Linked DNA regions of Homo sapiens. The protein of the gene in region 1 interacts with the protein of each later gene in a pairwise test. Each region holds a gene or a part of one and is shown in the gene's direction. Other genes may lie near its edges.

Region 1 (3,954 bases):
GGGGGCCTGGAGGACGGGGGCCTGGAGGATGATGGCCTGAAGGATGAAACCTGGAGGATGGAGCCTGGAGGATGGAGCCTGGAGGATGAGGGCCTAGAGGATGGGGGCCTGGAGGACAGGGGCCTAGAGGATGGAGCCCTGGAGAATGGGGGCCTGGAGGATGGAGCCTGGGGGACGAGGGCCTGGAGGATGGGGGCCTGGAGTATGGGGCCTGCTCTCCAGACCCTGAGGACAGCCCCGTGGTGGACCAAGGATTTTGGGTTTCCTGCGTCTCTGGGCCCCTGACTGCTCAACCATCAGAAACAGACTGGCAACCCCCTGTCATTTCCCTGGCGTGGGGAACTTCGGGTCCCCTCTGTCCTTCCCACCACACTTTTCCCTCTTTCTTTCCGGGTGTCTACTCTCTGGCTTCTGTCTTCTCTGTCAGGTCCACAGAATCCTTCTCCAGCACATCCTACCCCAGGAAGGCCATGGGCTGGGTCCCAGGTGCCATCTTTCAGAAGATGTAGAGCATTCCCATGGAACAAAAATAACCCATTTCAGGGGTTGGCTGAAAATGAACTTATTAAAACCTGCCTGTCACAGGCTACTCCGCTGACCCTGTCAGCCTCATCTCCATGGAGAGCAGCCCCTCCTGCTGAAGATGGGACAAAGGGCATCGTGCTGCGGTTGGGGAGGCTCTAACCACAGCCCTGGGAGCAGTCTCTTACCTCCTCTGAGATGCTTCCCTTCCTCAGGGAGGGGACTTTTCCATGCTATCTGCTGGCCTGTACATTTTCCCCAGTAAACTTGGCCCTAATATTTTCTAAATTCCTGTGGTCCCTGCCCACTCTATCAATAGAAATGCATAGCTTATCCCTTCCTGGGTGTGACCCTGTGTGTGCCCAGCCCCAGACCTGCACGTGGCCGGTTTTCCACGCTGGCAGCCTGGCATGACCCAACTCTCTGTCCAGGGCAGGAAGAGGTATCACCGAGCAGGGAGAGAGTCACCCTGGCCCGGAAGCCTCGCCTGCACAGGGCACAGCTGCCTCTTGCCTCCTCTTCGCCTCCACGGTGGAAGGGCTGGGGCCACGGGGCAGAGAAGAAAGGTTATCTCTGCTTGTTGGACAAACAGAGGGGAGATTATAAAACATACCCGGCAGTGGACACCATGCATTCTGCAAGCCACCCTGGGGTGCAGCTGAGCTAGACATGGGACGGCGAGACGCCCAGCTCCTGGCAGCGCTCCTCGTCCTGGGGCTATGTGCCCTGGCGGGGAGTGAGAAACCCTGTAAGTGAAGGAGAGGGTCTTTTTATGTGCTTTCTTTATTTCTCTTAAAGAAAAAAAAAAAGCACAACCATAAATTAACTTGAGAGGGGGAATGGCTATAAAGGCATCTGGCAATGTGTGTTGTTCACATGGGATTTGCCACTGCTCAGGAGGGTGGCTCCAAGAAGGGCCTCCCTCCTAGGGAAAGGCTGAGTGACGGCAGGTGTCAGCGGGCCCCGTGTCGGGCCAGGAGGGCATTCCCACCAAGGGTCCTTGGAGTCCCAGAGCACTCACCTCTCGCCTGGATCTTGGCCTTGGGTCCATCTGTTCACCCTCCTCTAGGAGGGTTTTGTTTTTGTTTTTTTCCGAGACAGGATCTGGCTTTGCCGCCCAGGCAGGAGTGCAGTGGTGTGATCTTGGCTCACTGCAACCTCTGCCTCCCAGGCTCAAGTGATCCTCCCACCTCAGCCGCCTGAGTAGCTGAAACCACAGTTGTGGACCATCATGCCCGGCCAATTTTTTTTTTTGTATTGTTTGTAGAGATGGGGTTTCGACATGTTGCCCAGGATGGTCTTGAACTCCTGAGCTCAAGCAATCTGCCCGCCTCGGCTTCCTAAAGTGCTGGGATTATAGGTATGAGCCACCATGCCTGGCTTTTTTTTTTTTTTCCTTTTAAACTAATATAACAATTTCAGCAAAGCCCTATCGGCTTCTCAGGAGGAAACCGCATTGCTTAAATATGGGCAAGATAAGACTTTGTGTTTCTCTATGTGGCAACAAGACAGTAGAGGCATCCCCTAGAACCTCTGAGAGAAGGAGCAGTGTGGTCTGGGGTACCAGGGTGGGGCCGACTGAGGGTCTTTCCACAGCCCCCTGCCAGTGCTCCAGGCTGAGCCCCCATAACAGGACGAACTGCGGCTTCCCTGGAATCACCAGTGACCAGTGTTTTGACAATGGATGCTGTTTCGACTCCAGTGTCACTGGGGTCCCCTGGTGTTTCCACCCCCTCCCAAAGCAAGGTAATCTTCCAGGGAATCTTCCTGGGCCAGCAGCTGGCAACCCAGGACCCAGCTTCACAGGCGGAGCCCAGAGCAGGGGCCGGAGGAGGCCCAGTTGCTAGTCTAGGGTTAGCCTGGGTGGGTTAGTCTCGAGCTAGCCCCGGTTGGTTAGTCTGGGGCTAGCCCAGGTTGGTTAGTCTAGAGCTAGCCCAGGTTGGTTAGTCTGGGGCTAGCCCAGGTTGGTTAGTCTGGGGCTAGCCCAGGTTGGTTAGTCTAGGGCTAGTGTAGGCTAGTTAGTCTAAGGCTAGCCCAGGTTGGTTAGTTTGGAGCTAGCGCAGGTTGGTTAGTCTGGGGCTAGTAGCCCAGGTTGGTTAGCCTGGAGCTAGCCCAGGTTGGTTAGTCTAGGGCTAGCGTAGGCTGGTTAGTCTGGGGCTAGCCCAGGTTGGTTAGTCTGGAGCTAGCCCAGGTTGGTTAGTCTGGGGCTAGTAGCCCAGGTTGGTTAGTCTGGGGCTAGCCCAGGTTGGTTAGTCTAGGGCTAGTGTAGGCTAGTTAGTCTAGGGCTAGCCCAGGTTAGTTAGTTTGGAGCTAGCACAGGTTGATTAGTCTGGGGCTAGTAGCCTAGGTTGGTTAGTCTGGAGCTAGCCCAAGTTGGTTAGTCTAGGGCTAGCATAGGCTGGTTAGTCTGGGGCTAGTAGCCTAGGTTTGTTAGTCTGGAGCTAGCCCAGGTTGGTTAGTCTAGGGCTAGCGTAGGCTGGTTAGTCTAGGGCTAGCCCAGGTTGGTTAATCGGAGCTAGCCCAGGTTGGTTAGTCTGGAGCTAGCCCAGGTTGGTTAGTCTGAGGCTAGTAGCCCAGGTTGGTTAGTCTGGGGCTAGCCCAGGTTTGTTAGTCTGGAGCTAGCCCAGGTTGTTTAGTCTGGAGCTAGCCCAGGTTGGTTAGTCTGGGACTAGCCTGGACTGCTAGTCTAGAGGTAGCCTAGAGGACTGCTAGTCTAGAGGTAGTCTAGGGCTAGCCCAGGTTGGTTAGTCTGGGGCTAGCCCATGTTGGTTAGTCTTAGACTAGCCTGGACTGCTAGTCTAGAGGTAGCCCAGGTTGTTTAGTCTGGTACTAGCCTGGACTGTTAGTCTAGAGGTAGCCCAGGTTGGTTAGGTTGGTTAGTCTGGGACTAGTCTGGACTGTTAGTCTAGAGGTAGCCCAGGTTGGTTAGTCTGGGACTAGCCTGGACTGTTAGTCTAGAGGTAGCCCAGATTGGTTAGTCTGGGACTAGTCTGGACTGCTAGTCTAGAGGTAGCCCAGGTTGGTTAGCCTGGGGCCAGCCTGGACTGTTAGTCTAGAGGTAACCCAGGTCAGCCAACAGTGAGATGAAAATTTCCCACCTACCCTGTTTCTACACTGTTAGTTCTTTCAACAGACATGTGTGTGTGGAGCCATCAGTTTTACTTTAGTTGAGAAAAAAATATATATATATATAGTAGGTCTCCTCTAGTTTTTGAAGTGTGACTTCTGAAGAAGCTTCCATGGGGAAATGAAGGTATTTAATAGGACAGCAGTAACATAAGGGCTGACAGCCCTCAAATGTTAGGGAAGGAAGTGAAGCCTTCTAGGGTTCTTTGGGAGTGAGTTTTATGTTAGTGCACGGGATCAGGACCCAAGTTGTAACGCCGACGAGTGCTCAAAGGAAGGTTGTGTGTGTGTCGTGCACCTGTGTGC
Region 2 (3,500 bases), on another chromosome or scaffold:
CTTGTGAGGCGCAACGGGACCACACGCAGGGCCTGGCCAGAGTGCCGTAGTTTCTTCGGTTGCCATGATGGGACGGTGAAACTCCTCACACTCTTCTTTCTGCCTTGAAGATTCTAGACCTGGCTGGGTGTTCATCTCCCTTTTTGCCTTTGCTTGAGGCAGTTTATGGCATGGCTGTGTTATTCACGTCGCCAGGTCTCCTCCTGGTGGACGTTGAGGCCATTTTCATTTTTTTACTCTTAAAAACGACAGGGCAGTGCGCATCTTCGCATCTCCGGGGTGGGTCAGGTCTCTGACCTCTTTGCCAGTGTGACTTATTACCCCTTTCTTTCTTTGTTTTTCTTTTTGAGACAGTGTCTTGCTCTGTCGCCAGGCTGGAATGCAGTGGTGTGATCATAGATCATAGCTCACTGCAACCTCCAGCTCCTGGCTCAAATGATCCTCCCACTTCAGCCGATATTAATCCATTTTCATGCTGCTGATAAAGACGTATTTGAGACCGGGCAATTTACAAAAGAAAGAGGTTTAATGGAGTTACAGTTCCACACAGCTGGGCTGGGGAAGCCCCACAATCATGGCAGAAGGCAAGGAGGAGCAAGTCACATCTTATACGGATGGCAGCTGGCAAAGAGAGTGAGAGAGCTTCTGCAGGGAAACTCCTGTTTTTAAAACCATCAGATCTCGTGAGACTTATTCTCTATCACGAGAATAGCACGGGAAAGACCCACCCCCATGATTCATTGATCTCCCACTGGGTCCCTGCTACAACACAAGGGAATTATGGGAGCTACAAGATGAGATTTGGGTGGGGACACAGAGCCAGACCATATCAGCCTCCCAAGTAGCTGGAACTACAGGTGTGCGCCAACATGCCTGGCTAATTTTTTAAATTTCTGTAGAGACGGGGTCTCACTGTGTCACCCAGGCCGGTCTTGAACTCCTGGGCTCAAGTGATCCACCCTCCTCGGCGTCCCACAGTGCTGGATAATAGGCGTGAGCCACTGTGCCCAGCCATTTCCCCCTTATTTTTAGCATCACTACAGTAGCTGTGATCTCTGAGCTTTGGGGATATCCCCTCCCCAACATTTTACTCTGAAAATTCGAACATCTGGAAACGTCAAGGCTTTGTACAGTGGACACCTGTGTACTCGGCAGCCACCTTCCGTGATGAACATGCCTTATATTTGCTTTGTCCTCAATCTGTGATTCGGGACTGGATTTCTCTTGTTTCCTGGTGGGACCCACACTGCTTGTCAATTACTTATTTTGTTCCCCTTCATCCCAGTCTTGCTGTGACTTTCAGATACCCCCGGGTCTTATATACACTCAGGGTTATACCCAGAAAACATTTCTCCTGGGGGATTTGTCTCTAGGTAGGGGGCCCTCTTGAATAGTCAGGGGGAGAAAGAAAGACTCAAGACCAGCTCTGAGGAGGCGGCAGGGGTGCCCCTTCCCTCTACCTTGTGGGCTCCTTGGGGAAGAAGGACAAGTGAGTGCCATGAGAAATACCCCTGGGGATTTTGTGGAGCTGGAATGTGCTGGTGGACCATGAATCCACAAGGACTTGGGCATCGAACTCCCTTGACTGGGACCCACAGCAAGGGAGGCTCTGCAGCATCACCTTAATCAAATGGACTCACCCTCTCTGGGTGATGTATCCTGGTGCTTCCTCTTCTGTTCATCAGTCAATCAACAAATAAATGGCTGGGCGTGGAGGCATATGCCTGTAATCCCAGAAACTTTGGTCATTGGTTATGTCTACCTGTTTATTTTTGGGGGAGGGGGATTCATAATATGTCATGACGTATATTAACAGTTTGCAAAGTGCCACATGGGAACGTAATCTTCAGGATCTGGAAAGAGGCTCAGTCTATTCAGTCTATAGGAACCCCCGCCTCCCCCAAGACCCTTGTCATGAGAACGAATCTTTCACTCCCAAATTCCTAGAGTGACGATGATTGGGTCATTATTTTCTTTTTTATTTTATTTTATTTTATTTTATTTATTTTTTTATTTTTTTGAGATGGAGTCTTCTCTGTCTCCCAGGCTAGAGTGCAGTGGCGCAATCTCGGCTCACTACAACCTCCGCCTCCCGGGTTCAAGCAATTATCCTGCCTCAGCCTCCTGAGTAGCTGAGACTACAGGCATGTGCCACCATGCCAGGCTAATTTTTTGTATTTTTAGTAGAGACAGGGTTTCACCATGTTAGTGAGGATGGTCTGAATCTCCTGACCTTGTGATCTGCCCACCTCTGCCTCCCAAAGTGCTGGGATTACAGGCGTGAGCTACTGTGCCCAGCCTGGGTCATTACTTTCATTCAACAAAGCATTTCTCCCCGCAGTCCATGCGCACCCTGCCCACAGCTCTTTCTCATTTTCAGCATCTCTCTTCCCTTTCTAGAACATGCCGAGTTTTTGCACTGCAAGTCCAAAAAGTTTACAGACTTTGATGAAGTCCGGCAGGAGATTGAAGCAGAGACCGACAGGGTCACGGGGACCAACAAAGGCATCTCCCCAGTGCCCATCAACCTTCGAGTCTACTCGCCACACGGTAGGCAGCACGGGTGGGGACCCATCACTGACCGTTTCTGGTCGTTCATGGACAGTGCTATGGGTGAGCCTGTGTACTTCCACTCATGGGTATCATGTGCCCATTCACAAACAGTTGATATTCACACACACATAGCCCCTTGATCTGTATCTTCCCACTTGTGCTAGGTATGTAGTACCCAGACCTCTGTCTCAGCTTGAAGAAAGAGCATGCCAAGAAGTTGTTTGGAGTGGTGGGGGATTGCAGCCATTTCCCCCTTTTACCAAGGGCAGCCACCACTTGGCTCAAGGCAGCCAGATCTGCTGGTGCCTCAAGAGAGGCCAGAACCAGTCTTCTGTAAAATATCCTGGGTTTTTTTTTTTTTTTTTTGAGACAGAGTCTTGCTCTGTTGCCCAGTCTGGGGTTCAGTGGTGTGATCTCTGCTCGCTGCAACCTCCACCTCCCAGGTTCAAGCAATTATTGTGCCTCAGCCGCCCAAGTAGCTGGGATTACAGGCATGCACCACTACACCCAGCTAATTTTTTTTTTTTTTTTTTTGAGATGGAGTCTCGCTCTGTCGCCCAGACTGGAGTACAGTGGTGTGATCTCAGCTCACTGCAGTCTCCGCCTCCCAGGTTCAAGCTATTCTCCTGCCTCAGCCTCCCAAGTAGCTAGGACTAGAGGCAACTGCCGCCACGCCTGGCAAATTTTTTGTATTTTTAGTAGAGATGGGATTTCACCATATTGGCCAGGCTTGTCTCAAACTCCCGACCTTGTGATCTGCCCACTTTGGCCTCCCAAAATGCTGGGATTACAGACGTGAGCCGCCGCGCCCGGCCAAATTTTTTTTTTTTTTTTTGAGACAGAGTCTCGCTCTGTTGCCCAGGCTGGAGTGTAGTGGCGCAATCTCCACTCAATGCAACCTTCACCTCCCGGGTTCAAGCAATTCTCTGGCCTCAGCCTCCCGAGTA

The links. The genes of interacting proteins can lie anywhere in the genome.
Region 2: the proteins of TFF2 (region 1) and DNM2 interact in binary tests that used the Homo sapiens proteins (3 or more experiments, as listed by UniProt).

What each region holds. Positions count from the first base shown.
Region 1 is NC_000021.9:42,348,195-42,352,148, reverse strand, and holds the start of TFF2 (trefoil factor 2 precursor), read left to right. Parts: upstream 1-1,154; 5' UTR 1,155-1,191; coding exon 1,192-1,270; intron 1,271-2,118; coding exon 2,119-2,268; intron 2,269-3,954. UniProt on the Homo sapiens protein: Inhibits gastrointestinal motility and gastric acid secretion. Could function as a structural component of gastric mucus, possibly by stabilizing glycoproteins in the mucus gel through interactions with carbohydrate side chains.
Region 2 is NC_000019.10:10,770,079-10,773,578, forward strand, and holds part of DNM2 (dynamin-2), read left to right. Parts: intron 1-2,400; coding exon 2,401-2,550; intron 2,551-3,500. UniProt on the Homo sapiens protein: Catalyzes the hydrolysis of GTP and utilizes this energy to mediate vesicle scission at plasma membrane during endocytosis and filament remodeling at many actin structures during organization of the actin cytoskeleton.